4 linked regions of the Homo sapiens genome follow. The protein of the gene in region 4 interacts with the protein of the main gene of each other region in a pairwise test. Each region holds a gene or a part of one and is shown on either strand. Other genes may lie near its edges.

Evidence for each region.
Region 1: the proteins of TMED8 (region 4) and C10orf67 interact in binary tests that used the Homo sapiens proteins (3 or more experiments, as listed by UniProt).
Region 2: the proteins of TMED8 (region 4) and DEFB129 interact in binary tests that used the Homo sapiens proteins (3 or more experiments, as listed by UniProt).
Region 3: the proteins of TMED8 (region 4) and CIAO2A interact in binary tests that used the Homo sapiens proteins (3 or more experiments, as listed by UniProt).

The regions. Positions count from the first base shown.
Region 1 is NC_000010.11:23,201,601-23,209,337, reverse strand, and holds the end of C10orf67 (uncharacterized protein C10orf67, mitochondrial), read left to right. Parts: intron 1-5,082; coding exon 5,083-5,165; 3' UTR 5,166-6,642; downstream 6,643-7,737.
Region 2 is NC_000020.11:223,069-231,065, forward strand, and holds DEFB129 (beta-defensin 129 precursor), read left to right. Parts: upstream 1-4,189; 5' UTR 4,190-4,220; coding exon 4,221-4,278; intron 4,279-6,209; coding exon 6,210-6,703; 3' UTR 6,704-6,818; downstream 6,819-7,997. UniProt on the Homo sapiens protein: Has antibacterial activity.
Region 3 is NC_000015.10:64,089,704-64,097,699, reverse strand, and holds the start of CIAO2A (cytosolic iron-sulfur assembly component 2A), read left to right. Parts: upstream 1-3,861; 5' UTR 3,862-3,931; coding exon 3,932-4,055; intron 4,056-7,384; exon of another isoform or gene 7,385-7,502; intron 7,503-7,996. Other genes in the region: SNX1 (sorting nexin-1), read right to left, coding at 1,528-1,686. UniProt on the Homo sapiens protein: Component of the cytosolic iron-sulfur protein assembly (CIA) complex, a multiprotein complex that mediates the incorporation of iron-sulfur cluster into extramitochondrial Fe/S proteins.
Region 4 is NC_000014.9:77,366,230-77,374,364, forward strand, and holds part of TMED8 (protein TMED8), read right to left. Parts: intron 7,681-8,135; exon of another isoform or gene 7,462-7,680; intron 1-7,461.

The sequences.
Region 1 (7,737 bases), on a different chromosome or scaffold from region 4:
AGAGCACCCTTCTCAGGCTCTCCTGCTTGATCAATTTTGCCCCTGCTCTGTGTCTTAAATGTTGAGGTTGCTAAGGATTTCATATTTCGCTTCACTTTTTTACACTTTGTTATTCCCTGTTGAATCCTTCAGCAGATCTCTATGGCTTTCAAGATAAAATCAAGTTCTTCAGTTTAGCCTACAAGACCATTCGTAACCCCTCCCTCTCCCATATGTGAGCTTTCTAACCTAGTGGTCACAAATGACTTGCAGTGCCCTGCTGTTTCATGCTGTTCCAAGCACCTGTGCCTGTACACATGCCTTCATCTAGGTGGTGGGTCTTCTGCCTGGTCTCGCTGAGCTTCTGTGTTCAGCTGGTCATTGATGGACTTATGCTGGCTGTCTGCTGGGGTGACAGGGGTAACCAGACCTCATGTCCCTCACTATCAAGTAGGCTAAGCCAAGCTTGCTTTCATGGCACTCTCAGGGTTCTCCAGAGCAGCAAGAGAGCAGGCTCCAATGCACAAGGATTGTTCAAGTCTCCGCTGGGGTCACATTTGCTCTTATCCCATTAGCCAAAGCAAGTCACAGGGCCAAGACCAGAGTCAATGTGTGAGGGAACTGCAAAGGCTGTGGATAACAAGTGGAACACACTACTTAGCCTTCTAGGTTTTACCTTCTCTTTGTTAATCCATTCACTCATTCATTCCACAGACTTTATGAAAACCTAAGCAAAGGCCTAGGCGAGGCACTGAGGATATAGAGATTTTTCTCAGTGCCTGGAATTTATGTTCTAAGACAGTCACTCAATGACTAGCACATTCTGTAAAAGTCAGACCAGGATTTGTGGAAGTCCCATGAGGTAAGGTGGGCCTCCTGAGGTCTGTCTGCATTTTTCACCATTTCTGCGGAAATCGCTACCTTGCTCTTCAGAATTATATATTAATAACCACTTTTCCCATAAGAATAATCAGAAACCAAGATACAGAAACAAAATTTTAAATATTTTCAGTGTGTATGTTTTTAAAACTGTGACTGAAATATTACTGCATTTCTTTGGGAACCTATAAATTCACGCATGAAACTGTGTGATAACAGCATTTCCACTAAATATGCAGATGTCAAGGTGAGTTACAGGTGAGTTACGAGAGCATTTAACATTTCAATCCTTAGGCTCCAAATTGTTCACCTGTTCATAAGAAAAACTAGCTGCTTGTAATTTCAAATTCGTACGTGCAAAAATTGCATAGACCAAACGTTCGAATGAAAATCCTTTTAGAGACAACTACCTAACGCTTCCATATTAAGAGTGTTTATTTTTCTCTAGGATTAGAACAGATTGCATTGGCAGCCCGGTCTTTCATAAAGAGGGGGGTGGGGAATAGAGTTGGGCCTTCATTTTCTCACAAAAGGCACAATGTGAAGCGCATCTGTGAACATTGCATAATTTGTTATGTTCTACACAGAGGTGGGTTTTTGTTGTACACATACCAAAGCTATTTGGTGCCGTTTCACCAATGATCTCTATTCAGGTCCAGAAAAGAAATTGGCCTCAGAAGAGTGAAAGGAAAGTAAATTTTTCTTTAAAAATTAGATACAGATTATCACTTCAAAATGCAGGAGGGAATTTTACAAGTGCCGGTGTACTGATTAGCTTTCCAATGGACATCCAGCCCTTTATTAAACACATGCTAGCTGTGGTCAACTGTGACCGATGTGGTTTATTACTCTCCAGAAGGGCTGAACTGAAATCACCCATCTAATTTAATTGAGAAATGTTGGATGAACTTGAACTGTTTCATGGACATGAATGACCAGAGAATTTATTTGATGAGACGTTAAAGGCTGAATACGGTAACTATCTCTTTGATGGTTTAGTACAGTCGATTCATTAGTTCATTAGCATGCCTTTCATATTTTTCATTACTACCTGAGCAACCTAAATGAAAAAGGCAAAAAATAAAAGTTTTTGTACAGCGTCATTCTAAAAAATTAGCAACCTTCCCTTTATTGGTAAATATTTGTGATCATTTTTAATGTAGTTAACTCTTTTCAAAGTGACATCAGCTTTCCAGTAAAGGAAGTTCACAGTAATTAAATTGTGTGGACATTAATAAGTCCACTGGGATTTTTCATGTGATAGTCCCTAAATTATTTTCAAAATGTTGTCTTCTGACTTCATTCATTAAGACAAAAAAAAAAAAAAAGCCTTTAGGAAGTTGGCATGTTATTCACCAAACAAGCTCCTTTGCATTTTCTCGTAAACTGGGCAGTGTGAGCTGTAATTGGTGGCCTTGCAATGAAACATTTGTAGTAACTTTATCAAGAGTATGGCACAGAGGTGGCATCAGATGACAGTGCTTTCTCTTCATGTGTGTCTGCTAACATTTAAGATAGATTCTGCTTTTTTTCCAATGACTAATGCTGAGGCATAACTTGGAGATATACATCTTTTTTAAACTATATTAAAATATTATATCTTTTAAATTATCCACAGAAAGAGCTAGAAACTCTAATAATAAATTATAAACTCACACTTCATGTAACTAGTGACTCTTTAAATGAAATTTTTCATTGAAACTTTGTCATTAAAATAGAAAGGGCTTTGGCTGTGCCCATACAAGCATAATAAATTGTATATGTTTGTGATACTGAATGACTTTTACCCATATGCTGCACTGCAAAGCTACATGAATGAGGCATTTACCAAATCAGGCCCACCACATTAAACAGAAAAACAATCTTTATTCATGGTAACTTATCAGTTTCAATTAATCAACCCTAACAATGGAAATTCTGATGTGTTCAAGCAACTTGAAAGCAATAGGTCATCTCCAGGGCAGCATTGTTGTGTCTTTGTGCCGAAGATTTCAAACAAAGCAACATCTTCAATAAATATACATGCATATACATATATACATGTGCATATATATACATACAAATGGACAGTTACAGCTGAGCCCTGTGGTGCCAACAAAAATGCATGTGTATTTTTTATTATTTTTATCACAGCACATGTAATTGTTTTCCCTCAAGTATTACTTTTTGAGCTCTGCAAGTTTAAACAAAAGGAAAGAAATTTCCATTGGATGACCATCCTTTCAGTTTCTGTACTGCTATGTGAATAGCATTGTGCAAACCATTCCATTGGTTTTGAAAAGGGGTAACCATTGGTTTGATTTGGTTACACGGTTTAGTAAAGAGCTCCCTCCCACTGCCTTAGGGTCTGTGAAAGGTCTGTGACCTGTTTAGAACTGCCAAGTGAAATGTCATGTTGCCCCTCCCAAATGGGAGTATCTGCATTCATTTGATCAGTATAAAAAATGATTGGGGATGGCGAGATCAGTGCTTTTGAATTGCAATTTATAGCAGTTTACAAAAATGCACATTGTTAGAAAAGAAAACATGGAAGTGTTTCTTTCTAAATTGCATTACCTGTGAAATGTCATTAGTCTTTTAAGGATATTTACATCCTTTTTTTATTATTTAGGAGACTTACTTCAACTAAAGAAAATAAGAATTTTATTACCTTATGATTTTTTGAGTTGTATTTTGGTTTTAGTGTTAAAATTTTTTAAAAAGCAATGTTTCTGAGTTATTCATATAAACATAATTTATCATGTCCATTTATTGATTTTCTAAGATAATCTTTGTTAATGGGTTGTATTAGTAGAAGATTCTTAATTATCTTTCCCAGATTGTTCAGGACATTTATTTGTTGGTAAATTCCTCGTCTGCTGATTTCTAATAGACTAAAATCTCCAGTATACTTAACTCTAGCAAGTTTCCACTATTCCTTCAACATTGTACTACCAGAACTTCTTTGTAAGATGAGTACTTTTCTAAATTATGGAACCCATTGACTCATCTACATGTATGCATAGTTTTATAAAAAGAAATTTCATTTCTTTTCATTAAATGTGCAAAAGAATACACGAAGCTTATCCAGAAAGTTTAGGTAGCCTGTTCAAGTTCATAAGGGCTGAATGCAGCCTCCTGGAGTTTCTGGGATGCAGAAAACAATGCCCTTTATGCTATTTCCAGGCATCTCACAAGCTCTGTATCTTTATGGCAGTGTGTAGCATTGGACATTACTTTAAAGAAAGCTTTGAGTAAGAAAAGTTACCTTGGGAAAAGGCCCTTGGGGCTTTCCTGGTTGATACTTGACTAGAAAAAGAAAGGCCCTTCTGCAGAAAAGACTTGACCCAGATAGGCTCTGGAGCACTCCACTTTGAACCTCCCAACCATTGAAAGCCGAGGTTGTCACGTTTTTATCTTTGTTCATGTTAAGCCTTGGAATGACAGCCTGGCTCCTCTGTGTTCCCCTCTCCCACTGCCCCGGCTATAAGTGTCCACATTGACACCTACCGGTGACCGCAGGCTGCAATGCTTTGTTGCCTTCTCCACGCTCCCGGCTTTCACTGGGATTAGCCCAGGGCCTTTGTTCCCCTTCAAAGCTGGAACATCACATCCCATGTTGTGGCTTTCCTGTCTCAGACCCCCAACGCTTTCCTCACAATTTACGCACCAGGTAAATGTTCCTCCCCACAGGGCAGAGAGCCCAACGTTGAGGTTAGGGGGTGGGGACATCTTCCCATTCCCCAGTTTCAGAGCCCAGGGCCAATGTGGTTTCCTTTCCTTCTCATTCATAATTTTCTATTTCACAGGCCCCGTCTATTTCCATTGCAAGGCAAATGGAAATTTAAAACTTGGAAAAATCAAATCCCTGGGCCCAAACACAGACAACTCTTCCCACTTTTTTTATTCTGCTACAACGGCTTCAAGTAGAATGTTGAGTACTGGCCTTTATCAGGGGCACCTGAGACCATTCCTGCAGCCTGGGGCTGCCGGAGAGCCCCAGACTGTCTCAGAGCAAAGCTTGGCTGGCACACGCTGTCTGGAAGGCCAAGGATAATCTGCCTGCCTGCCCTACCTCCTTCACCGTCTCTCTTCCAGGTTCCTGAAGAGGCTCTCAGCTAGGGCCAGGGCTGGGAAGACCCACTAAAAAAAATGACGCAAAATGCTTTGGGGGAAGAGTGGGAAGTGGTCTGTGTATGATAAGTAAAACAAAGTTTATGTCTGTCCACCTTTCTTCACGTTTAGGGAAGTTGTCGGAATCCCCAAAAGAAGAGTCCTTGGAGGAGCCCTCCATGCGCCAGAGCAGCCCCGCAGAGACTGTTGATTAACCCAGCAGAAGCCTGGGCTGCGCAGACGGGGCCTCAGAAAGAGTGGCCTCGCCGTCCTGGTGTAAGGTGCCTCCCTCGGAAAGGATACTATCTCCAAGGATTTTCTAAACTAATTGTTTAATCTCTCCAGATTATGTATATTAACCAGCACTGCGCTCGAATAGACCTCAATGCGCGCCTTGTGCGCGCTCCTTTCCACGCCTTTAAGGAAAGCCCTGGCTGGTGCTGGGTGAGCGGGGCGCACTGAACCTCCGGGGCAACCACATCCATTCAGGAGCTCCGGGGACTCAGAAGAGCCCAGGCGTCTAAGAGTGGGAAGGGACGGACTTTAATTAAAAAGTTTGACTCCCTCTCTAATCCAGTCTTTCTATACCAAAAGCATCAACCTGTTTTGCTGTCTCCTCACCCAATAACTAGTCCCCATGAAGGTAGGTCATGAAGACTACAGGGAGATCGTACATTTCCTCAAGCAAGATTCATTCTTATCTTACCCCGGCACAGGGCACCTAGCCGCATCTTAAAGGCTGTCAGAAATTCTTTAGTAAGTAGGGAAACTCTTTGGAGTTTTGCTTCCTGGTAAGGATGCAAACCAAGATTCTGCTGGAATGCCAGACACCGTTTACCAAAAGGCGGGTTTGCTTTTCTTCCATGCGTAATGTCCAACTTGGTTCTTTCTATTCCCCTAACTACAAGTAAGGCCTTGTTAAGAGCCTGTATCTGAATCGTAGGCTCTGGATTACAGAATTCTACAGTTATTTATTAAGTCTCAGGAAATATATTTGTGGTAGTTGTCACATAAAGCTGATATACTTTAGTTCAAAAGAAAGCTGCAGAGGTGATTTATTTGTGCGTAAAAGGAACAAGATTTAATTGGAGAGAGACGTGTTCTTTTCAACGCAAGTACATGGGATGGTATAGCGCTGTGGAGCGTTATTCGAGCTTCATCTACTATGCACTATATGCCGCTGTCTCCAAAGGAGTGTTGCCCTAGAAACTTGTTTTAAATCTGCTGCTATATATCAACACCTTGTTTTAGCAGTCCTTGGCTGAATTACAGTTACACAGTTTGGCGCTTCTTTCAAATTTCCTCCCATCAGTTTGGCTAAAGAAAGGAATTTTTCTCCTTTAGAAATGAATTGGCTTAATTAGTAAGTAGATTAATGGCAATTGCTGGTGAGTTGGTTTCCAGCAGAGTTTCACCAGAGAGGGTTAATCGGAGTCAGGTCTGGAATCTTTCCCAGAACTGGCTGCCAGCCATTTCCACCAACCAATCAACCCTACAAGAAACAGAGGAAATGAAATAAAATTTGTATTCTCTGTGCCATCGTCCTGGACAGAAATTCCTTGGAAGCAGCCTCCTGGTTGGGTGTGATATCAAACTGCTTCATTTCAGAACTTTAATAGAAACTTGAACCTTCAAGATTTATCTGGGTACCAAAGCAAAGTTTCAAATGGCACAATAAAGGTCTCCACAGAACCCTGGATGTATTGGAAATTTCTGAGGCTCTCAGCCAATTTCAGGTTGGGAGAAATTGCAAACCACCCAGGTCCTGCCCTATATCTGTTGTCCATCAGAAGTCCTTCAAAAGTTTTGCTGTATGTTTTGCAGCCTTTTTACTTTTTTACTTATTTTTTTCCCATAGTGATGAAAATGCATTCATAGTTTAACTTGCAGCTGCATTAGTCTTACAAAAAAAAAAAAAAAATCCCTGCTGAGAAATGCATATAATAGGAAAAACAGATCGGCTGGACAGCAGTGTAATTAATGCCAGAAAGGGCTGAGGCCGGTTTCATAGTTTGTCTTTTGAGGATATCAAGACGAGACCTGGTGAAAAATGACGCATGCTTTAGCATTTCAGAAAGCTGGCAACTGGCAGCGCTTTTCCTTTTTTCTTTGACTTTCTGCCGCGGAACAAAGAGGTCCGCAGAACTAGCTAGGTTGTAATGAGTTCTATGTCCCTAGCACATTAAGTGCATCATGGAAACATATTGTATCGAAATAGTTTGGAGGAGAATACCGGGGATGAAAGAGAATGGGTGCTTTGATCAGCTCCCTGGGGTCCTGAGCACGCACAGACTGACTTGCAAGGAGTTATTCAGCTCCAGCTAGACACACTTACAACACCATTGAAAGAAATTTGCATATCTGTAATTTATCACATTGGTCCAGAACATTATTGCAAGGTAAATAAAAGTTAGTTGAATAAAAAAAATCAATCATCGCAGATATAGAGAAAACTGTGAAGCCAGTCTTTCCACTAAAAAATAGAAATAAATATGTCTATAAAACATAGTGACTTAGAAGTAGCTGACTTTATTTTAAAATGCCTTTAGAACAACAGGTTATGCACTGGCAAAAACAAGAGTGGCCACAATTTCTTTGCCTTTCTGGTTTAGGGGAGTGTGTTCACTGCTTCCCACTGGAATAAAGTCAAAGTTGAGATGTGTTTGGCCATAACCAGCCTGCAACATGCAGACAAAAATTAGTACACACTTTGAGCAGATATGAAAGACGACTTAATCTCTCTGGCATTTGCAAATGCTAAGTTAAATCTCATTTCTTCTTCTGTTG
Region 2 (7,997 bases), on a different chromosome or scaffold from region 4:
CATAGACTTCTCAGTTGGTTCAGTTAATGGAAATCTGACTAAAAAATTAAAGAAGAACAAACTTTCCACTTGATGGGCGCCAAAACCATTGTGCCAAAATCAGCTACAAACAAGAGCACAGCTTTCAATGAAACTTTAAACAAGTGGGATCAAGATCCTGAAGCATTTATTCAAAGCACTGTAACAAAAGTTGGAATCTGGCTTTACCAGTATGACCCTGAAGACAAAGCAAAATCAAAGCAAAGAGATGGAAGTGATCCAGTCCAAGCAAAAGCTGACCAGTTAAGAACAAAAGTCATGTCAACAATTTTTGGGGGTGCACAAGGCATTTTGCTTGTTGACTTTCTGGAGGGCCAAAGAACAATAACATCTGCTTATTATGAGAGTGTTTTGAGAAAGTTAGCCAAAGCTTTAGCTGAAAAATACCCAGGAAAACTTCACCAGAGAGTCCTTCTCCAACATGACAATGCTCCTGCTCATTCCCCTAGTCAAACAAGGGCAATTTTTCAAGCGTTTTGATGGAAAGTCATTAGGCATCCACATTGCCATCCTGACATGGCTCCTTTTGACTTCTTTTTATCTCCTAATCTTAAAAAAAAATCTTTAAAGGACACCAATTTTTCTTCAGTTAATAATGTAAAAGAACACTGATGTGGTTAAATTCCCAGGAAGCTCAGTCCTTCAGGGATAGACTAAGTGGCTGGTACCATTGCTTACAAAAGTGTCTTGAACTTGATGGAGCTTATGTTGAGAAATAAAGTTTATATCTTTATATTTTTATATTTTAATGTCATCTTCCACAAACTGTTTGAAGTTCCCTCATAACTAAAATGTCCCCACATGCTCAGATAAGAAACACATTTCTCAACCAATGTTTCTCAGATATTAAAGTACATACAAATCACCTGAGGATCTTCCTAATACGCAGATTTTGATTGACTCATTCTGAGATGAATTGAAATCCTGCATTTCTGACAAGCTCTCCGGAAGTGTTGATGCTTCTGGTCTTTCCACCACACTGTGAATAGCAAGGTTCAAACTAATTCATATGTCAGAAAAGATGACACAGTGGAAATTGAAGTGTTTATTTTTAAGTGAATGATTATGATAACAAAACACTGCAAATAAAAACTTATGAAGTCCAGCTAAAGCTGCATATAAAGGGAAAATTAGAGTCTTACCCACTTGGTTATACTGAAGAAAAGCTGAAAATGTATGAGATAACAACACAAATAATAAGTTAGAAAACAATAACAGAATAAAATGAAATTTTATTCAAAGAAGTTCAAAGAAAGGAAGATAAAGCTGAGAGGAGAAAATAATTAAATATTTTTTAATTTTCATAATATTTAAAATAAAATATAATTAAATAAAAATCAAACATAGAATCAACAAAACCAAAAGCTGATTTTGAAAAGACCAATTAATTAATTCACTATAGGAATAACAAAGAAAAAATTGAAAACACATTACCCATATGAAGAATAAAACACGTAGCCATCACTACAAACTCTATAGATAGTAAAGAGATCAAAGGACATATTGTGAGTGACCTTATGCCAAAAATGAAATTTAGAAGAAATAAACATTACTTGATGTGACCCAAGAAGAAATTGAAAATTTGACAGTTCTAAATTGTTAGGGAAATTAAATCTTAAATCTTTAAACTCAGTTGAGTTTTTCTGCTACATTCCAATGTCTGATCCCTAGCTCTATGGGTTTCAACAGACAGTTGTAGAAGCAGCAGAAAAATATCCTTGCTCTTATATTACAGCTACCGTGGTGTGTTCTTGAAGTCCAGCATGTCTAATCATGGGATCCTGTCACCCTACTTTCCTGACTATGAAAGAACTAGCAGATTCTCTGCTGGGCCAGTTTGTTGGAATGTTCTGGAAGTCATTCTGGGAGACCAAGCCCACAGTCAGCTTCTGTAGAGAGTTTATAAGCACATAATTCTGAGTATTAAAAATATTTCTGTTGAAAATAGCTAGTGTTTTTCATTTCCCAACTGATACACATAAATGCAACACTTTGCACATGTGAATAATTTGTCTTTTTACAAAATTATGCTACACTGTTGATAGATTCATTCCATATATACATGCAACATACTTAATTTTTCATAACTTTCCAATTCTTATTAACTCAACTTTTTGTTCCATAATAACTGTGCTTCTCTTTGTACCAGTACTTTCCATATTCTTATTGCTTTGGGACTAGCAAGACACAATGAGGTGAATAATGTTATTTCAATGCATCTTAAAACACCAGAAACCAATTAATATGCGATATTCAGGATTAACTGATTCCAAAGGGCTGTTAATTCCATCTCTTGATATTGACAAGTAGTAAGTAAATATGCCTAAGCTTGATTATTTTTGTTCATAGAAGTAAAATATACATTTCATAAAGTGAAAGTTCATAAGATTTGCTTTTATTGTTTTAAAAAATAACAGTTAATTTAAACAAAACTGAGGAGTCATTGGATACTATAGTAGCTAATGAAATCCTAAGAAGACATGAATTTCAGGAAGGCGAGGAACCAGGGAAACTCTTGAAACTTGAACAATTAATAATATTCAGAGCCAATGAGCTTCAATATCTGAGTTTCTTAGGAAATGTCCCAAATTAGCAGGGGAAAGCATCTGATTGGTAGGCTTGGTTCTATTGTTACACCTGGATCAATCAGCTACGACCAAGGAATCTGAGCAGTACACTATAAAAATTGCTGCTTTTAATTATTTCAACCATTGTGGAAGATAGTGTGGCAATCCCTCAAAAACCTAAAGTCAGAAATACCATTTGACCTAGCAATCCTATTACTGGGTATATGCCCAAAGGAATATAAATGGTTCTATTATAAAGACACATGCATGCATATGTTCACTGCAGCGCTATTCACAATAACAAAGACATAGAATCAACCCAAATGCCCATCATTTGGCCATTTGGATAAAGAATGGATAAAGAAAATGTGGTACATATATACCACGGAATACTATGCAGCCATAAAAAAGAATGAGATCGTGTCCTTTGCAGGGACATGGATGGAGCTGGAGGCCATTATCCTTAGCAAATGAAGGCAGAAACAGAAAACCAAATACTGCATGTTCTCACTTATAGGTGGGAGCAAAATGATGAGAACACATGGACACACAGAGGGGAACAACACACACTGGAGCTTACTGGAGAGTGGAAGGTGGGAGGAGGGAGAGGATGAGGAAAAATAACTAATGGACACTAGGCTTAATAGCTGGGTGATGAAATAATCTATACAACCAACCCCCATGACACACATTACCTATGTAACAAACCAGCACATCCTGCACATATACCCGCGAAGTTAAAAAAGTTTTTTTTTAGTTGCTACTTTAAAAGGATGTGGGAATCATTGTAAACTCAAAAGTTAAAGATGTGCCAAGAGCTGTCTCCCACGAACTTGTTTAACAAACGTACTGACTTTGTATGTTGATCCAATACCCATGCTGGCCACTGGACATACCAGTACAAACAAGGCAGAATCTTCACTCTCCTCTAGCTCTTCTAATTCTCATGCACTAAGTGCCAACCTTAGCATAACTGGGCTGACAATCAGTGAATCAAATATCTAACTCTTATCCTACTCCAACGTTAAGAAAGAGACATGCGACTGGGTGCGGTGGCTCATGCCTGGAACCCCAGCACTTTGGGAGGCCAAGGTGGGCGGATCACTTGAGGTCAGGAGTTTGAGACCAGCCTGGCCAACATGGTGAAACCCCGTCTCTACTGAAAATACAAAAGTTAGCTGGGCATGGTGGTGCATGCCTGTAGTCCCAGATACTCTACTTGGGAGGCTGAGGCAGGAGGATTGCCTGAACCTGGGAGGCGGAGGTTGCAGTGAGTCGAGATCACGCCACTGCACTCCAGCCTGGGCAACAGAGTGAGACTCCATCTCAAAAAAGCAAAAGAGAGACACATGCAAAGGGCTTGCTCTTTCTTTCTCATCTTACCTATCTTATGTTTTCCTCCAGGATCAAGAGCAAGGAATTTGTTGCATAGAGGTGTTCAAGAAAGGGTGTTTTCAAACAGAGTCAGAAAAAACACAACTATACTGCGAGCAGCATACAAACCTGCTTTGGCTGCACTTCACTGCTCATGGCATAAGGCCACGAAGAGGCCAATAAAGGCTGGAGCTCAGGAGCATCAACCCAGATTCAAGGCTTCCTCTCTGGCACCCAACCATGAAGCTCCTTTTTCCTATCTTTGCCAGCCTCATGCTACAGTACCAGGTGAACACAGGTAATGTGGATTCCCAAGTTTAAGATGGGTAGATGAGAGGAACCAAGGATTTGGCTGCCCATGACAATGGAAACCCAAAGAGAGGAGACTGAAAGATTAGCTGTTCAAAAAGATGGCTAAAGAGCTTACCTATTGTATCAGTCATGCACTGATACATTCTCATAGGCCCCAACTGCCAGATTGTGTCCAGTGGAAACACCCAGGAAGCTACAGAGAAAGCAGGGTATTTTTTGTCTATTCAGAAACTATCCAAAATATAATGCTGCCTTCCTGCCCTGTATATGTCTATCATGCTAAGACTAAGCCCAGGTCTACCTCCTTTTAGCTCTATTTCTATCTTAAAAGCCCTTTTTTTTTAAAAAAAGTCCTGGGGTACTTGTGCAGGATGTGCGGTTTGTTACATAGGTAAATGTGTGTCATGGTTATTTGCTGCACCTACCAACCCATCGCCCAGGTATTAAGCCCAGGATGCATTAGCTATTTTTCCTGATGCTCTCCCTCCACCCAACAGGCCCCAGTGTGTGTTGTTCCCCTTCCTGTGAAACCACCTCTTGAAGCAAAGTTTCCTATCAGTTTGTGCTTGGTGTAGAAAGGAGGAAGTTCTTCCCTCATGCTCAAAAAAAAACCCTTTCAAGATCAAGTAAACAGGCCTGTGTTCTCCATCTTGAATTCTTTCAGGTTTTCCAGAGCCTTTATCGCTTCTCTCAGACTTTGTCTTCCTGAAAACCCCCAAACTACCATAAGGGCATCTAGGAATGCATTATAGCAAAAGGCTAAGCCAGGGGATTAACCATTGTTTTTGGAAAAGAAAGGAGAAGCACTGAGATTTGTTTCAGAATACAAGAATCATCCAGCTATTTGAAAAAATTAGCAAAGGGTTTCGGGGCAGGGAAAGTGGAAGTGTCAAAGATGCTTCTAATGTTTTTATCTTCTAATGTTTTTATCTTGGGACCCTAGGAAAAGGGTAGTACCATAAGCAAGTATGGCTGTGTCATCTTGGGTAAAGTCACTTAACCACTTTGAACTTCAATTTCACATGAGTATAATGGGGTTAATCAATGCAGCTGATTCCAATATAAGAATTTTTCTGTTTCCCGTTTGATGAGAAAACAATGTGGAAATGTATGCAAATATGCTTTGAAAATTAGCAGATGCTACATAAATCTCTTGTAATTTAGGGAAAATCATTGGGTTATTAAGATGAACAAGGGAGAAAAGCTTTCTTGATTCAGAAAAAAGAAACACGAGACATTAGGATGGAAAAGTCATTCAGCAGATAAAGATAAGGTACTAAGCCGAGCAGGAAATTTAGAATTATAGATAACAATACAGAAGTTACCTTGGTGGATATGAGGTTAAGGCTAGGATAATGAATGAGACTTCTGAGAGATAGAGTGTCCAAAGAGGCTAGAAGAGATAGAACACCATGCTTCAGGAATCACAGATCTAGTGATTGTTGAGAAGAGAGAAGTCATGGGCTACTGAGTTTGGTGAAAAGATAAGACTCCTGAAAATTCTATTGATTCTCTTTTGAACTTCTTTCTTAAATTAGTTTTATGATGGACTTGGCTCTCATTGGTATTTCCCAAGATTATGGAGATGGGATAGTGATGTCTGACAAGTACCTAAGATGCTAAGTTGAAGGTCTAAAATTCCATCCTAAAAGCAAATAATTACTCTATCATCTACGTGCCCTTTGCTTCTTAAAGTTACTCAAGGAAGGCAGACTAAACAGGAAATTTACTTTGGATTCAAGAGGGGCATAGAGACGCTCTCAGCCTGCCCATTTGCCTTCATCAACATTCCTAAACACTGGGCTTAAAATGTAGTATGAGTAAACTCTCTCTTAGTCTATCCATCTCCCACTAGCAGTTTTAACATCATCTCTAGTTATTAACCTTGGCTCAATGGCTTTCTCTTTTTTTATACAGAATTTATTGGCTTGAGACGCTGTTTAATGGGTTTGGGGAGATGCAGGGATCACTGCAATGTGGATGAAAAAGAGATACAGAAATGCAAGATGAAAAAATGTTGTGTTGGACCAAAAGTGGTTAAATTGATTAAAAACTACCTGCAATATGGAACACCAAATGTACTTAATGAAGACGTCCAAGAAATGCTAAAACCTGCCAAGAATTCTAGTGCTGTGATACAAAGAAAACATATTTTATCTGTTCTCCCCCAAATCAAAAGCACTAGCTTTTTTGCTAATACCAACTTTGTCATCATTCCAAATGCCACCCCTATGAACTCTGCCACCATCAGCACTATGACCCCAGGACAGATCACATACACTGCTACTTCTACCAAGAGTAACACCAAAGAAAGCAGAGATTCTGCCACTGCCTCGCCACCACCAGCACCACCTCCACCAAACATACTGCCAACACCATCACTGGAGCTAGAGGAAGCAGAAGAGCAGTAATGTGGATCTTTCCCTTAAAACTCCAAGTTCCTCTCTATTTTTGCTATCTATAAAATGACATAGAACTGTTTCCTCTGTCATCAGTCATTCAATAAACACTGTTTGAGCACCTACAGTTTATGTAATATTATCATTCTCACAAGAGCCTCACAGAGGGGGTAGAGCTAGGGAGGGATGGAATTGTTTAAGTTTAGATGCCCAGGAGAAAGTAAGCCTCAGGAGGGTGACTACAGCATCGAGTTTGTCCCAAGCATGGCCTAGATTAGGCCTCTGTAGCAAGCATTTATGTCTCTCATATGGTGTGTTTTTCCTGGAGCAACAGTAAGGAAAGCATCAGGAGATGTATTTTCTTTTCTCATGTATTTGGGAGGAAAGGCCCAAATGCAAAATAGAATATGTAGGAATCAGAAAAAGGTTAAATTAATTGTAATAATATATTTTTGTTTCGTTTTGTTTTGAGACGGAGTCTCACTCAGTTGCCCAGGCTGGAGTGCAGTGGTGTGATCTCAGCTCACTGCAACTCCACCTCCCGGGTTCAAGCAATTCTCCTGCCTCAGCCTCCTGAGTAACCGAGATTACAGGCGCACACCACCACACCCAGCTAATTTTTGTATTTTTAGTAGAGACGGGGTTTCACCATGTTGGTCAGGCTGGTCTCGAACTCCTGACCTCGTGATCCGCCTGCCTCGGTCTCCCAAAATGCTGGGATTACAGGCATGAGCCACCACACCCAACCAATAATGTGTTTTATTGAATGCAATATATCCAAAACATGATCATGTTGACATGTAATCAATGTAAAAATTATTTATGAGAGAGTTTACCTTTTTTGGACTACATCTTTGAAATCTCATATGTGTAATTACACATAGAGCACATTTCTATTCATACTAGCCACATCTCAAGTGCTCATAGTCATATATGAATAGAGGATTTCATAGCATATTGAACAGCAACAAGGCTAGAGAGTTTTAGGGCACAAGTAATTATAGTGACTCTTAGGCATAGGGGATGCCCCTAATCCAGAGGAGACAGGCATATTTCTGAGGGCTGTGGCATATAATTTAAGAGTATAGAAATTCAGGTCTGATATGCCCGGACTAGCATCCTAGATTCTGGCACTTTTTAGCTGTGTGGTCTTGAACAAATCATTTATCCACACATAAGCATCAGTTTATTTATTCATAAAATGGAGATGTGAACATTATATTATATCCCAGAAATCAGCAATCTCAGATCACTCTTCCTCTTATTGCCCAAATTACAATGGCACAGCCACCTATTCTAGTTTTTT
Region 3 (7,996 bases), on a different chromosome or scaffold from region 4:
TAAATATTCTCATAAAATAGCCCAAAACATCTCTACTGGTTCCATAACTGATTACTGATTTCCACATTACAAAGATTATTTTTTTCTAATACCTAACTCTTATTAGAGACCCGGATATTTATTACTGAGGCAGGAGAATAGGGTCTGGAGGCAGGGAACTTAAGGGCAATTCATGCTGAATCAAGGAAAAACACCAAGGTTTGGGGGCAGGGAATCTGAGGTCAACTTACGTTAACTTTCTAAAAGAGAAAACACCAAGGTCTGGGGGCAAGGAATCTAAGGCCAATTCGTGCTGACTTCCCAAAGCTGAATTCCCAAAAGGAACCCCCTGGGTTTGGGGGCAGGGAACCTAAGGCCAATTAAGGCCAACTTCCTAAAGCTAAACCAAAAGGAAAAAACCCATCTGCCCACGCCCGAGTGGCAAAGGATCAAAGGCTACTATCCCTGCAACCCTCCCCATCCACCACGTCTCACATGGAAAGGGAGAGTGCCTTAGACTGGCCGCAGGCCAAGCAGGGACCATCCGTTCATCTGCACAGGACGCCAATTCACCTCGGCCTTTAGCCACAGACCAAATCCTTCATCCAGATAAGGGGTAACCCATAGGAACCATAAAAGGAGCACTTAAAATCCAGAAAACTTTGTAAGTGGGCTCTTGAGCCCCTTGCTCCGGCCCACTCACACCCTGTGGGGTGCTTTCTCGCTTTAATAAATTCCTGCTTTCGCTGCTTCGTTTGTGTTTCATTCCTTTGTTATTTTGTGCGTTTTGTCCAATTATTTGTTCAAAATGCCAAGAACCTCGACAACCTACACTCAAGGGCCTCCTACCGGTAACATTACGGGAAACACCATTTCCTCATCACATTTCAGATTTGCTCCCAGTGAGGTACGTGGGCACTTGAACACATCCCTTTAAAAAGGAGAAAGCTTTCTGATCTATGTAGTGATTTATCTGGCAGTGCCTTCTGTCCACCAGCCTCTGGCCTGATTTTCCTAGAGATCAGAAGAATCAACATAACTTTTGTAAACTAAGATCCAGAAAGGGCCTTTGGTTATTATCGGTAAATGCTGGGCTAAAGAAAGAACTGGTGGGCGGGTCACCACCCCAGGCTAGTCCACATAACGCTATTCATCTTAGAAGCAGTAAGACGGGGGAAAGGTCTGCATCCCATTCGCTTATTCCGTCCTACTGAATCTGCCTTGGCAGGACACGACCTGCAAAATAACCCCGTGGATCCGTGGAGTGTCACCACACTGCAGGGTCAAAGGACGGCGTCGGCGGTTCTCGGCTGTTAGGGAGCTAGCCGACGAAGGCACCACAACCCTCATTCTTTACTCTTCCCGCCTGGGGGCCGGGAAGCCAAGCTCTACCGCTTCGAGCACATCCAGGGTCCCCGGGGCCCGGACTGCTGACACCGAGGCAAGGTCTCACCGGGCCCACTCTGCCCAACCTCCCCGATTCTCGCTTAGCCTCTCTTCCCTTTCGGGGTGCCCTCCCGCCTGCTACCCCGAGGGGTGCAAACTCACGACCACCGCGGCGCCGGTGAAAATGTCCTCCCCCTCGGTGTCGCTGTCCCCAGCCTCGGGTTCTGATCCCCCGGCCGCCCCCTCGGACTCCGGCTCCAGGCCGGGGAAGGGCGGAGGCAGTCTCTCCGAAGCGCTACAGCCACCACCACCCGACGCCATCTTCTTCCACCCGCGGCGGAAGCCGCAACAACAACTTTATCGAGAGATAGCGCCGTGAGCAAAGCGATCCAACGGTGCGAGGAGTGGGAGGGCCGCAAGGGACCCCGTGGGATCCGAGGGGCGGAGACCTAGGGGCGGGGCTTAGGCGCTGGGGGCGGGGCGGCACCCGGCCAGCTGAGGCTGCGCAGCAAATCCGAGGCCTGGTTCGCGATGCTGAGATATTAACGAGTGGGGCCAAAGGGGCAGAAAAGTAGGAGTTAGGGGCTGCTCAGGTTTCTAGGGCCCTTTGTGCTCTGGATAGCTTTATCCAACAGGCTTCTAAGAGTTCGTCTGAATGAAGGAGTGTCACTAAAATGTTTGAAAACCTCTACATGCCATCTACCCATGCCAAGCACAATGCCCTCACAGAGAGTCAATAAATATTTCGATTGAGGTATCTGAACAAGACTAGAAGAAAGCTTCACCACTTATTCCTTGAGCAACATTCAGTTAATTCATTAAGAAATACAGATACTGAGCATCTACTGTATGCCTGGCACCTTGCTGTGAGTTTCAGATACAGAAATCAGGTATTTAATCGACAGTTCGACATGTTCAATGCTATGGTGCCCTGTGGGAGCACAGGGAAAGAGATAATCAATTCTGCTTGGAGAAGTAGGGAGGCCTCACAGATGAAGTGAGGCCTCAGTGTCCTAGATTTGGCTGGAAAAATGTTAGGATTATCCTCTCAATTGCTGTGGAGTAAGTGGAGTGGAATAGACGGCAGGGAAATTATTGAACCCTGACCAAAATTTCCTTGGGACCTAAGCAATTCATTGTCTGGTGATCCTAAGGCCTACATTAACTAGACAAACAAGACTGGAGTTTAAAGATAAATGGGCATGTTAGCATGGGACAATTCTGCAAGATAATCCTATCTTCTCAATAGAAATGGCATTTGTCACCAACTTTGACAAGAGGTTTAGTTAGTTTGGTTGTAACTGCAAATTCAGGGATGGACTCCCTCACAGGTCATGTGAGCTGTTTGAAGGCGGGGGCAGCGTTTTATCTTTGTATCTTCCATGCCTATGGATCACCTATGGCAAATTAGTACCTACAAATTTGATCGGAGGGATGGATGGATAAAATAAAATCGATTTTGTTACTGGCATCCATCACACCCACGAACACCAGAGGGCTTAAGATACACTTTTTTTTTTTTTTTTTTTTTTGAGGGAAGTCTCGCTCTTCTCCCCCAGGCTTGAGTGCAATGGCTCGATCTTGGTTCACTGCAACCTCTGCCTCCTGAGTTCAAACGATTCTCCTGCCTCTGCCTCCCAAGTAGCTGGGATTAAGGCCCCTGCCACCACGCCCAGCTAATTTTTGTATTTTTTAGTAGAGACGGGGTTTGCCCATGTTGGCCAGGCTGGTCTCGAACTCCTGACCTCAGGTGATCCGCCCGCCTCGGCCTCCCAAAGTGCTGGGATTATAGGCGTGAGCCATCGCGCCCGGCCAAGATACACTTTTAAGGATGGCGATCTCCATTATGTCACCACTGTACACATTAGACACGGGAAAACTTATGTTCTAAGTTGTCTTTGGAGGCCATTAGCAGAAATATTCGTTCAAAGGTGGGAAGCTGTGCTGGACTGAGTCCCTTAGGAGACGAGAAAGCCAAAAAGCCCTCCCCATGCCATACCTGACTACCTCACTGGCTTCCCATGACATCCCTTTTCACAGCAACTGAAACCTACTTCCTGTCCGATCAGGAAGTAAGAAAGACGTTGGCTGTCAGCGGATCCCGCGGAGAAATAATTGTAAAGAGTCTCCGTGCTGGAGAACTCAAGATCTCCTTTCCCCTACCCCTTCAGGATTCATCTTTAACTTATCACGGATACTGAGTGAGTCAGTCGCGGTTAACAGACCGTTACATCCACTTCTACCAGGCGGACACTACAAGTCCCAGAATACAATTCGCTGCCTTCCGAAGAAAATAGCTCACGCATCCCAGCATGCAATGTGCTGACGAGCCGCGAAGATTGTTTTTGTCCCGCCGAAATCGAGCAAAGCACGCTGGAACTTGTAGTCCTTGAGGCCCCTTCCCTAGGTCCTTCGAGCTACTCCGTCTGGCCCCGCCTTTTCTCTGCTCTCCTGAACCTTTAGGCTTGTCTCGGCCCATTTGAAGACCAGGAAGTTGATCAATCCCGAGGCTGCTGAGAGACGGTGGCGCGATTGGGACAGTCGCCAGGGATGGCTGAGCGTGAAGATGCAGCGGGTGTCCGGGCTGCTCTCCTGGACGCTGAGCAGAGTCCTGTGGCTCTCCGGCCTCTCTGAGCCGGGAGCTGCCCGGCAGCCCCGGATCATGGAAGAGAAAGCGCTAGAAGTTTATGGTAATTAATTTTACCCAGCACAGCATTTGGCGTTATAGGTGCAGGCCGGAGCTGAGGGGTGCGGGGATGATGGCCTCACCTGAGGGCTGGGAGGGGAGACCTTTTTTTTTGTTTGTTTGTTTGTTTGTTTTTGGCCAGATCTTGTCCGGGGCGTAGCAGGCGCTTTCTTCGGGGTCCTAAGTCACGTGGGGGGTGTGGGTCTTTCTGGGAACTGGGCTCTTCGTAAACCTGGGGCAAGCCGAACCCAGAGGTCTTAAAAGCTTCATTCTCCACGTGTGGCCTACGTCTTAGTAACCATTCCAAGACTTGTGGGGAGACCACAAGTCTAGGGTGCCTGGTTAGGAAGCAAAGCTGGCCTGATTGCACTACTAGAGCCTCGTTCTCTAGCTCCTGGACACGCACTCTTGCTACCGCTGAGGGCGCTTGTGGGTGACAGTCGAGTTGGGGACTGGCCCAAGGTCACAGCCACTCTATCCGGCAAAGTCAGTAAGCAGAGGTCCCCGAAAGAAGAGAACGAGATTGGCTTCTTGTAGCAAGGCCTTGTGTACACACACATAACGCACACACACACATACACACTCTTCCATGTTGCATATTAAATATTTTCTGTTTAACCCTTGGGGCCATCTTTATTGTACAAATGAGGAAACAAAGGTTAAAGAACTACCTGGAGGTCACACTGCCAGTAAGGAACAGAGCCAAAAAGCAAAGGCTGTGCCTACTGGTTCTAACCGTAATGCACTTTCCACCACTTCACAATTGCCTTACAACTTTTTGTTTGTTTGTTTTTTTAATTATGTTGTATTGTTTTTGAAAACCGAAAAGACTGGATATAATATTGAGAGATCTAACCATAGAATACAAATATAATTCAAGTAAGGATTATAGGCCAGTAGAAGGAAGCCAGGGTTAGGAAATACTCTGGGAGCTAATTTGGTTGACCTCTCTTACTAGAGGCAGGACTTACCTAATCAGCCTCCAGGCAGATGATAATTGTGAGTAAAATGATCTCCACAAAGCAGACCACATCCCTGTCCTGCCAGATCTCTGTCCACATAATCTAGGGATGGTAGGGCACTGGAGATACAACTTTGGAAGAGAGTGACTCTAGTCTTCAAACTGATATTGAAGGAAACCCATATATGCAAAAATAGAGTATGTAATAGAAGGCTGTAGACTGAATAAGAGATACAGAAATTCAGAGAAAGGGAGATACTAGTCTCTGACTGAGGGGATCTAGAAAGACTTTGAAATAAAGAGAAGGAGCCACTTGAGTTGGGCCTCAAAGAATAATTAGGATCTAGATATGTAGAGGGTCAGAGGGCATACTAAGAGGAAACTTAAAAGCATGGAGGTAAGAAGATAGGAAATGACAGATAGATGGGGCTATAGGATAGGGTTTGTGGTTAAATGTGAAGATGTGGTTGAACATTGTTCTAGGTAGTGGGATGCAGTTGGATACTGAAGGTTTTAAATATAAATGAAGAATTTTAATAGTGCAGTGCTGTGGAAGAATGTTAGTGTGGGGAGTAATATGAGGAGAACTTTCTTTTAAATTTTTTTTTTTTTTTTTTTTTTTTTGAGACAGGGTCTCACTCTGGTAATCAGGCTGGAGTGCAGTGGTGCAATCACTGCTCACTGCAGCCTCCATCCACCTCCAGGGCTCAAGCCATCCTCCCACCTCAGCCTCCTGACTGACTGGGACCATAGGCATGCACCACCATGCCCAGCTAATTTTTGTATTTTTTTGTAGAGATGAGGTTTTGCTATGTTACCCAGGCTGGTCTTGGACTCCTGAGCTCAAGTGATTTGCCTGTCTCGGCCTCCCAAAGGCTGGGATTACAGGCATGAGCCACCACACCCGGCCCTTCTTTCTTTTTAAAGAAGTAAAGCCAAACCTCTCAAATCTAGAAACTAGAAAACTAGAGAAATTTAATAAGGATGATATTTAATTTCAGGGTTTAGTGGCATATAAAGAATATAATACAATTAAATGAGCCTTATGGGGAGAAAGCCTAGTATGAGAGGCAGAAAATTCCTTTTCAGAAAACTCTGTTTCCCTAAGTCCCATGATAACACAGCTCTGTGAAAGAGAAGCTTTGTCGACTTTCTTGCCTATGTTTTCCAATTCTGCTTCTTTCTTTCTTTTTTTTTTTTTTTTGAGACAGAGTCTCTTCTGTCACCCAGGCTAGAGTGCAGTGACACAATTTTGGCCCACTGCAGCCTCAGCCTCCTGGGTTCAAGTGATTCTCCTACCTCAGCCTCCTGAGTAGCTGTGATTACAGGCACATGCCACCACACCCGGCTCATTTTTGTATTTTTAGTAGAGACGGGTTTTTGCCATGTTGGCCAGGCTGGTCTTGAACTCCTGAACTCAGGTGGGTGATCCACTTGCCTCAGCCTCCCAAAGTGCTGGGATTACAGGCATGAGCCGTCATGTTTGGCAAAATTCTGTTTCTAATCAAGTGACAAGCCCAGGAGCAAATTAAAGAGAAAATAGAATTTGTTCTTGTTTTTCCCAGTTGCATTTCTGATTACATATAATTTTGTGTGATAAATAATAAAACAAAACTTCAGATTTGAGAACCTCAAGCACATTCTATGTAAAATTCTGCTTCTTTCCTTTCTACCTCACCATTTCTCTTTATTGTTCTCCTTTCCTTCATCTCTTTCTCCAGCCTCAGAGTAAGAAAGAAATCTTGTCTTCTCCAAGGCCAACTGAGACTTCTAAATATTTGATCCCACTCCCTTCTGCTTATTTTACCAGTCTCCGCTCCTCCCAACTTATATTTTCAATTTCTCTCCTCAAAGTTGCCCTTATCCTTGTCATTGTTCTAGCTTCCTTATAAAGTCATTGTCCTTTTCATGTCCCTCCCTTCCCAGCTAAGGCCCTAGGAAGACATTTTCAGTTCCTACTTGCTTCCCCTTTTGCAAGCTGGCTTCAGCGCACGCACTCTCTACTGAAACTGCTTTCTTACAGCTGGCTGGGGTGACAAATGAAAGACCTGTTTTAGCTCTCATGAGCCTGAATTTTTCTGCAGCATTTAATGTTATTAACCATCCCTCTCTTCCCTCCTCTAGTTCTTTTTGCTTTTGTTTCTCATTCTGATCCCTAAGTTAGGTGCTTCGCATGGATCTGTTGGGTCTCTTTTTTCTTTATACCACTGATTCTCATACTGGGTTGTACCTAAGAACAACCCGAGAAATTTTTAAAACTCAAAGGCCAGCAAACCAATTAAATCAGAGTCTCTGGAATTGGGGCCCAGGCATCAGGTTTTTTTGTTTGTTTGTTTTTGTTTTTGAGACGGAGTTTTTGCTCTGTTGCCCAGGTTGGAATGCAATGGCGGGATCTCGGCTCACTGCAACCTCTGCCTTCTGGTTTCAAGTGATTCTCCTGCCTCAGTCTCCTAAGTAGCTGGGATTACAGGCGCCCGGCACCACGCCTGGGTAATTTTTGTATTTTTAGTAGAGACGAGGTTTTACCATGTTCACCAGGCTGGTCTCGAACTCTTGACCTCAGGCGATCCACCCGCCTCAGCCTCCCAAAGTGCTAGGATTATAGGCCTGAACCACGCGCCCGGCCTTGTTGTTTGTTTTGAAACATTCTTGGTAATTCCAATGTTCAGCCAAGGTTCTACTTATTCTTTGTGAATCCTGTGGGTTTGACAACCACTCTAGCTTTGATGCTGTTTTAAACTCTATGCTACAGTTTACCACTTGCTAGAAAACTCCATTGGATAACCCCTTAAGCACCTCAAAATCATTCTGTGTGAAATTGAACTCATTTGCTCTATGCCCCACCCAAATTTCTTCCTCGTTCTGTTTCTTTTAGTTCTGCCAGTGTTGTCCTAGATACTATTTTAGGCCTGGTGTTTTTAGCTGGTATCATTGGTTCTGCTTTTTAGTCTGAGTCTAGCAGCTGATGATGAGTTACCAGCTGA
Region 4 (8,135 bases):
TCTGGCTTTCAAAAATACTCAACCTTTTCCTCCTTGGGGAGAACTGTCACTGACAATAGTACTCAGTGGAAGTCAAAATGGAAGATCCTTCTCTTCGCAGTACCAGGAAGTCAGGGAACAAGCACATAATCTAAAATATTCCCACCTGGAAAAGGTGAAACAGGAGTGGGACAAATGAGAGACAGAATTCATCTAGTGGCAGCCAAACAGCCAAGTTGTTCTTGCTGCTTAGCCTCTGGAGTCCTCCAGCCTTCTAACAATTTAGTGAGCCTCCTTTTTCCTTCTAATAAATCCTCTTTCTGCTTAAGACAGCCAGAATTAACTTATATGGCTTGTAAAAAGAACTCTGACAAAAATTCCTGGATAGAATTTCACTGGGTCCAGAAATCTGAACTTAATTAAAGTACCTAGCTATTCTACCTTTATTCTGATCATCTTTGTTATTATAACCAAGACTCAGTGGTCACTTACTATATGTCAATTATTTTCTAAGTTTTTTGTAGGCATCACCATATTGAATAGTCACTGAATTGCACTGAATTATAGAACCACTGAAGTTGATGCTATCATTACTCCCTTTCTATAGTTTAAGAAATTGAAGCTCGGAGAAATCATGATGCCCAAGATGACCAGCAAATACGAATAGAAGTGATATGCACTCAGGCAATCCAAGATCAAAGTCAGCATTCTTACTAACTACATTATACACTGACTCTTTTAAAAACCTTTTCTAGGCTGGGCGCAGTGGCTTATACCTGTAACTCCAGCACTTTGGGAGCCCGAGGCAGGCAGATGGCTTGAGGTCAGGAGTTCCAGAGCAGCCTGGCCAACATGGTAAAACCCCGCCTCTACTAAAAATACAAAATTAGCCAGGCATGGTGGTGTGTGTCTAATCCCAGCTACTTGGGAGGCTGGGGCAGGAGAATCGCTTGAACCTGGGAGGCAGAGGTTGCAGTGAGCCGAGATCACACCACTGCACTCCAGCCTGGGTGACAGAGCAAGACTCTGTCTAAAAAAAAAAAAAAAAAAAAAAAAAAACTTTTTAAATCTTTTCTATTGTGAAATATAACGCAAATGTAGAAGAGTACACAAAAGTGTATACCTCAATAAATTATCACAAACACCACCCAGGCCAAGAAATAGAACACTTCTAACACTCCAGAAGCACCACTCATGACCTTCCCAATCATTACCTGATCCTTTCCTCCTTAAGGTAAGAAAACCACTATCCCAACTATGGACATTATTTCCTTGCTTTCTTTATAGCTGGGCCACCTAAGTAAGCATTCCTAAACACTGTTGCTTCACTGGGCCTGTTTTCTGAATTCCATATAAAGGAAAATGAAAAAGAATGTTTTCTTTTGGGTCTTGCTTATTTCAGTCATTATTTTGATTGATGCATCCATCAAAATCTGCATCAAAAAATGCACCCATGTAATTGTAGGTAGGTTTGTTAACTTTCTTTCTTTTTTTTTTTTTCTGAGACAGAATCTCACTCTTGTTGCCCAGGCTGGAGTGCAATGGTGCAATCTCGGCTCACTGCAACCTCCACCTCCTCGCTTCAAGCGATTCTCCTGCCTCAGCCTCCTGAGCAGCTGGGACTACAGGCGCCCACCACCACGCCCAACTAATTTTTGTATTTTTAGTAGAGACGGGGTTTCACCATGTTGGCCAGGTTGGTCTCAAAATCCTGAGCTCAGGTGATCCGCCTTCCTCAGCCTCCCAGAGTACTGGGATTACAGGCATGGGCCACCGCACCCAGCCAGTTTGTTCACTGTCATTGCTGTACGTTATTCCATGAATCCACCATGAGCTATCTATCTATTGTTGATGATACTTAGGTTAACTCCAGTTTGGGGCTATTATGAATAATGCTGCTATGAATATTCTTGTGTCTTGGCTACAGTGCATACATTTATGTTGGATATAAATGTCAGAATGGAAACGGTTAAGTCATAGAAATTTGAATGTTAAATTTCAGTAGATAATGCCGAACTATTTTCTAAAGGGGTTGTACCAAATATAATGCTACCAGCATTGTAGCATCATTTCATTACTCTGGACCTTCTCTGACACTTGGTCATGTTAAAATTTTTTTGGGGGGCCATTCTGGTAGATGTATGCTAATTTAGTTTGTATTTCACCAATGACTCGTATTTCTTGGCCATTTAAAAATCTTCTTTTGTGAAGTGCCTCTCCAAGTCTCTTGCCAATTTTATTACTGGATTGTCCTTTTTATTATTTATTTATTTATTTATTTATTTTTGAGACGGAGTCTCACTCTGTCACCCAAGTTGGAGTGCAGTGGCATGGTCTCGGCTCACTGCAACCTCCGCCTCCTGGGTTCAAGAGATTCTTCGGCCTCAGCCTCCCTAGTAGCTGGGACTACAGGCACGTGCCACCACACCCAGCTAATTTTTGTATTTTAGTAGAGACAGGGTTTCACCATATTGGCCAGGCTGTTCTCGAACTCCTGACCTCATGATCCGCCCACCTTGGCCTCCCAAAGTGCTGGGATTACAGGCATGAGCCACCAAGCCCAGTCCCTTTTTATTATTTATAGGAGTTTTAGATACAAACCTTTTGTCAGGTATATGTATTATAATTACCTGCTTCCACTCTGTGACATGACTTTTCCCATTTAATGGTGGCCTTTGATGAACCAAAGTACTTTTGTGTACTCAAAATTTATCAAATTTGCCTTCCTTAGTCTTTGTATGTCCTGTCTAAGATGTCTTTCACTATATTGAGATCCGAAAATATTCTCCCATATCCTATAGGTAGGTGCTTATGTACTACCTTTCACATACTGTTCTATAATCTACCGAGTTGATTTTTTGTGTATGATGTGTGAGGTAAAGATTACGTTTCTTTACTTTCCTTTCTCTTAGAATATTCAATTGTCCCAGAAACATTTACCTTACCTTACCCACTGCTCTATGTTAACAATCTTTGTTGCAAAGCAAGTGTCCGTATAAACATGTTTCTAAGCTTTTGATTCTATTCCTAGAGCCTGACTACTCTTTAAAAACTTTAAAATAAGTCTTGATGTTGGATGGAACAAATCTTTCCCTGTTGTCTTATTCAAGAGTGTCTTTGCTATTTGTGGCCTTCTATTTCTATATGTATTTTAGAACCAGCTTGTCAAAGCCACCCAAAAATCCCAATTCATGAACTTAGCTGTTTCTGAAGCTGAGTTGCACTCCCTGCAATGACCTACTTTTAGGGCATGGCCTTTCATGGCCCTAACCCAAAGGAAATGGAGTTCACCAGGCTCCCCCTTGACGGGTCCTGAACACTAATCCATTTCCTGTTACTTTAGTTCAAAGAGGCACTTTTCATGACCTTGTCACTCAGCTTCCCCACTCAGGAATCCAGCATGTACCCTCAGGAGACAAAAGAGCCCCAAAATAGACTCTTGTCCTTGGATCTCTATAGCTCTCACATGGATCACAGCTAGGTAATTCTTCATGATCTTTCTATCTCTCCAGTATCTTCCAGCAGATGTTTATATTTCACCCATATTTTCTAATTGTCCCTGATGAGAGATAATTACCTAGTCTGCTATTACTGAAAACAGAAATCCATATTGCCTATTTACCCATATCAATCTGAATATACCTTAGTGAATAAAATAGAAACAAAAATAGTTCTGCCCTCTGCCAGGCACGGTGGCTCATGCCTGTAAGGGAGGCGGAGGCGGGAGGGCCGAGGCGGGCAGATCACAAGGTCAGGAGTTCGAGACCAACCTGGCCAGCATGGTGAAACCCCATCTCTACTAAAAATACAAAAATTAGCCGGGCGTGGTGGCACATGCCTGTAATCCCAGCTACTCGGGAGGCTGAGGCAGGAGAATCGCTTGAACCCAGAAGGCGGAGGTTGCAGTGAGCCGAGATCACACCACTGCACTCCAGTCAAGGCGACAGAGCGAGACTCCGTTTCAAAAAAAAAAAAAAAAAAAAAATTCTGCCCTCTCTCTGTCATTGATTAATAATATCAGTTTATCTACTATGTCTATCCCCCTTTGGCTTATCCTGTCCTTTGGATCGTAATGAAGACTTCAAAAAGGTTAAATTTTTAGACAGAAATGAAACTAGCACAAAAATAATGAAAGACAGTAGTGGATTTAAAGAATAACAAAATTAATCTCTAAGGAGACTTATAACCTTTTATAAAAAAATTCACTGAGAGAAAAAGGTCTAGAAAATGTCAGTTCCTGATGAGCAGAAACAGAATACAGACCTATAGAAAGGCTCTTATTTAGGATATAGACATAGTGAAGTCTCATGCCAAGTTTGTGTGTGTGTCTATCTATGTACACATATATTTATATATTTTAAAGACTATTTTTATTAACTATTTCTGAATAATTTATCCACATTATTCAAAATTCAAAAAGCATATAAGTATACAGTGAAAAATTTCCTCCCATGTCAGTCCCTACCTCCAAAAGCAATCAATGTTATTTGGTTTTGTGTAGTCTTCCAAAGATGTTTTATGCATATAAAAAAAAGTGTGTGTGTGTGTGTGTGTGTGTATACTTTTTCACTTTTTTACACAAAAAATGGGCATGCTTAGGCGTGGTGGTGCGTGCCTGTAATCCCAGCTACTTGAGAGGCTGATGCAGGAGAATCGCTTGAACCCGGGAGGCGGAGGTTGCAGTGAGCTAAGATCACGCCATTGCACTCCAGCCTGGGCAACAGTGCGAGACTCTGTCTCAGAAAAAAAAAAAGGTCGGGGGGAGCATGCTGGACATACTACTGTGTACTTTGTTCTTTCCACTTATATCTCAAAGACCTTTCCATAACTGCACATGAAAAGCTTCTTCATTCTTTTCTACAGCTGATTAGTATTTCATTGGGTGAATATTCCATAATGTATTACCATTACAAACAATGCCATAATAACCTTGTATCTATGTCATTAAACAGGAGAATAAATAAATCTATAATTCCTGGAAAGAATGAGTCAAAGGGGCATATATTGTAATTCTGATGGATATTGACAAGTTGCCCTCCACAGAATCTGTACCAATTTACAATCTCATTAGCAAAGCATGAGAGTGTCTGCTTCTGCACACCGACCAACAAAGTGAGTTAGCAAACTACCAAGTGTAGTTAGGATTTCCAATTCCCTTATTATGATTTAGGTTGAGCATTTTTCACATGGTAAGCACCACTTCTCATAGCATTTTAACAACTTAATGTATACTGGAAAAAAATATGCTTTTGATTTTTTTTCTTTCCATCCCATAAGGAGTTGAGCTTTTGATTTTTAACTTTAAAGGAATGCCCTAAATTATTTTTAATTTTAAAGAATGCCCTAAATTACATAAGAACTACTGGTAAAACAACTTATAATTGGATTCAGAGAGGCAGGAAGTAAGAAAAGGAGAAAGAAAAACATAACTTTATTTCCAGAAGTATAAAGTGTGGGAGATGCAGCGCTGTTTCAGTGAGAGAGAATTATGAGCACAGCCTTTTAGGTTTCCTGAAGTTCTTCAGTGAAATTTAAGCCACTATGCAGAAGAAAAAGCCAATTTTCCTATAGTATAGCTTTTATTATATTAGCCAAATATAAGCCAATTCTGAAAGTATTCCTAGAAGAGATCAGAGAAATCAGGCCAGACTTTGCAAATTTAGATGGTATGTGGGGAAATGTTTTTTATTTTTAAAAATATGTATTCTAGTATATATTAAGAAAAATGGATATATCAAACTAGTAATATCGTAGGTATTATTTAGAATGAAACTTTTAAGTGTCAATCAAAATGTCAATTAAATGTCAATGTCAAGAAAAAATAGTAAATAACTAATACTGTAACGGTATTCTCCAGTGTGGCAAAGTCATTACCATGGTTCCTCAGTGGCCGAAATCTCGGAAACAATGAACGGAGGAGGAAAAATGGAAGCTTAACAATAACTTAATTTATCATTGATGGCCACTAAAGCAAAGGTGAGAGAGAAAAAAGGAACTTCCTTAAAATAACTTATTTTATATTTGACAACTTTTTAAATGTGCATTTTCTTTCTACATTACCAAAGGGTCTGGTTTCAGACATTCTGATCATGCTAGGGATTCAAACTTACTGTGTACTTCGTACTTTCCCTACAAGGAGAACCAAAAAGCAGGTTTTTTTCAAAAGCATTTGAATATCAGGTCAGGGTTCTTTAGAACAGGCCTCAGAGGATTTCCCCCTCAGTAAACAGGCTGCAAAGAGATAATTAGCCTGTCATTTTAGATTCCAGTGCAGAAGAACTAAAAGCAGGCTATGTGGTTACAGACTCAAGAGGCTTAAACGAAAACAAATTAAGTGAGTTTATGTTCCAACCAAATCTAGTGACCATGTGATCCAATTTCTCTTCAGCCCTTGAGTGGGACATGCTCCTGAGAGGTCACTCAGATTGTGCACCTTTGGTTATACTGTTTAGACTGAATCACGACATGAATAATCAACTATCTGACTAATCGACTATCTGGACACTAAAAACACAACCACTGTAAGAAAAAGAAAGCCACAGGCAGACAAAATGTTAACATTTTGACATAAAACCACAATAGAAAACTAAAAAACATCAAGGCTGTTTGTCATTGACTCCCTATTATTCTTACCATTCAACATGGTAGCCACCAAATTTTGAATTTTAATTCATGCACATTGAAATAGCCACAGATATTATATATATATATATATATATATATATATATATATATATATATATATTTTTTTTTTTTTTTTTTTTTTTTTTTTTTTGAGACAGCGTCTCCCTCTGTCGCCCAGGCTGGAGTGCAGTGGTGCAATCTCGGCTCACTGCAACCTCTGCCTCCTGGGTTCAAGTGATTCTCCTGCCTCAGCCTCCTGAGTAGCTGGGACAGATATGAAATATTTTCATCACTGCAAAAAGACTTATTGTAATATTCTAACTTCTACCTTAGAACCATGAACAAGTTTACCTGACCTGTTTCCATCCTCAACATCTAAATGTATTGATAGCTCTGGGGGACATACACACCAAACTAAGTTCTACTGCTGACTTCAGGATCACAATAGAGTTTTATTTTCCTTTAAACTTAAAAAAAAAACAAAAACAAAAACAAAAAAACCTGCCTTTAAGTGATGCAACAAGTATGCCTCAGATAGTTTCATAATTAAAGAATGATTTATCTCTCCTCTGGGGAACTGAAGAACCCAGGTGCCTCAAATAAAAGACTATTAAAAACAATTACAATGCATAAAACAATAAGAACACCATGACCACTGGAGAGCTTAGTTCATAAGAACATAAATCCTTTCCTTCCTTTTCACCAAAACCTCAGCTAACAAACATGAAGACACTCAATAGGTATTCTCTGCAGAGAACACTTTTAAAAAACAAGTTATGGTTATTCTGGATAATGACACATTCCTGCTTTGAAGGAATAAGATACACCAAAAAACCAAAACCCTTAACTCAACAATACCTGATATGGCTTGGATGTTTGTTCCCTCCAAATCTCACGCTGAAATGTGATTTCCAATGTTAGAGGTGAGGTCTGGTGGGAGGTGACTGGATCGTGGAGATGAATCCCTCATGAATGATTTGGCATCATCCTCTTGATGATAAGTGAGTTCTCACTCAGTTAGTTCACCTGAGATATGGTTGTTTAAAAGAGTCTGGGACCTCCTCCCGTCTCTCTCTCTCTCACTCCCAACTCTCGCCATGTGACATACCTGCTCCCCCTTTCAGTATGATTCTAAGCTTCTTGAGGCCCTCACCAGAAACAGATACCAACACCACACTTCCTGTACACCCTGCAATACCATGAGCCAATTAAAACTCTTTTCTTATAAATTACTCAGTCTCAGGTATTCCAAATGGACTAACAGAACACCTGAATATCCAATTCCATTTCTTACTGCTGTTTTCTCTCTGAAAGGGTGAGAGAAATCTCATTAAATTTCATTCTTTCTTAGAGCTCTATTGCTTACTCATTGTATCATTTTCTAGAGGAAGATGGCAGAAGGATCCAATCAAACGAATTCCAAGTTTAAAGCAGTTTTTTGGGGTTTACGCCCAAGCCTCTGGTCCAGGCCAAATATAGTATTTCCACACTGCTTTGGAAGCCCAGCTTAACTCTAACACAGCGTTCCCAAA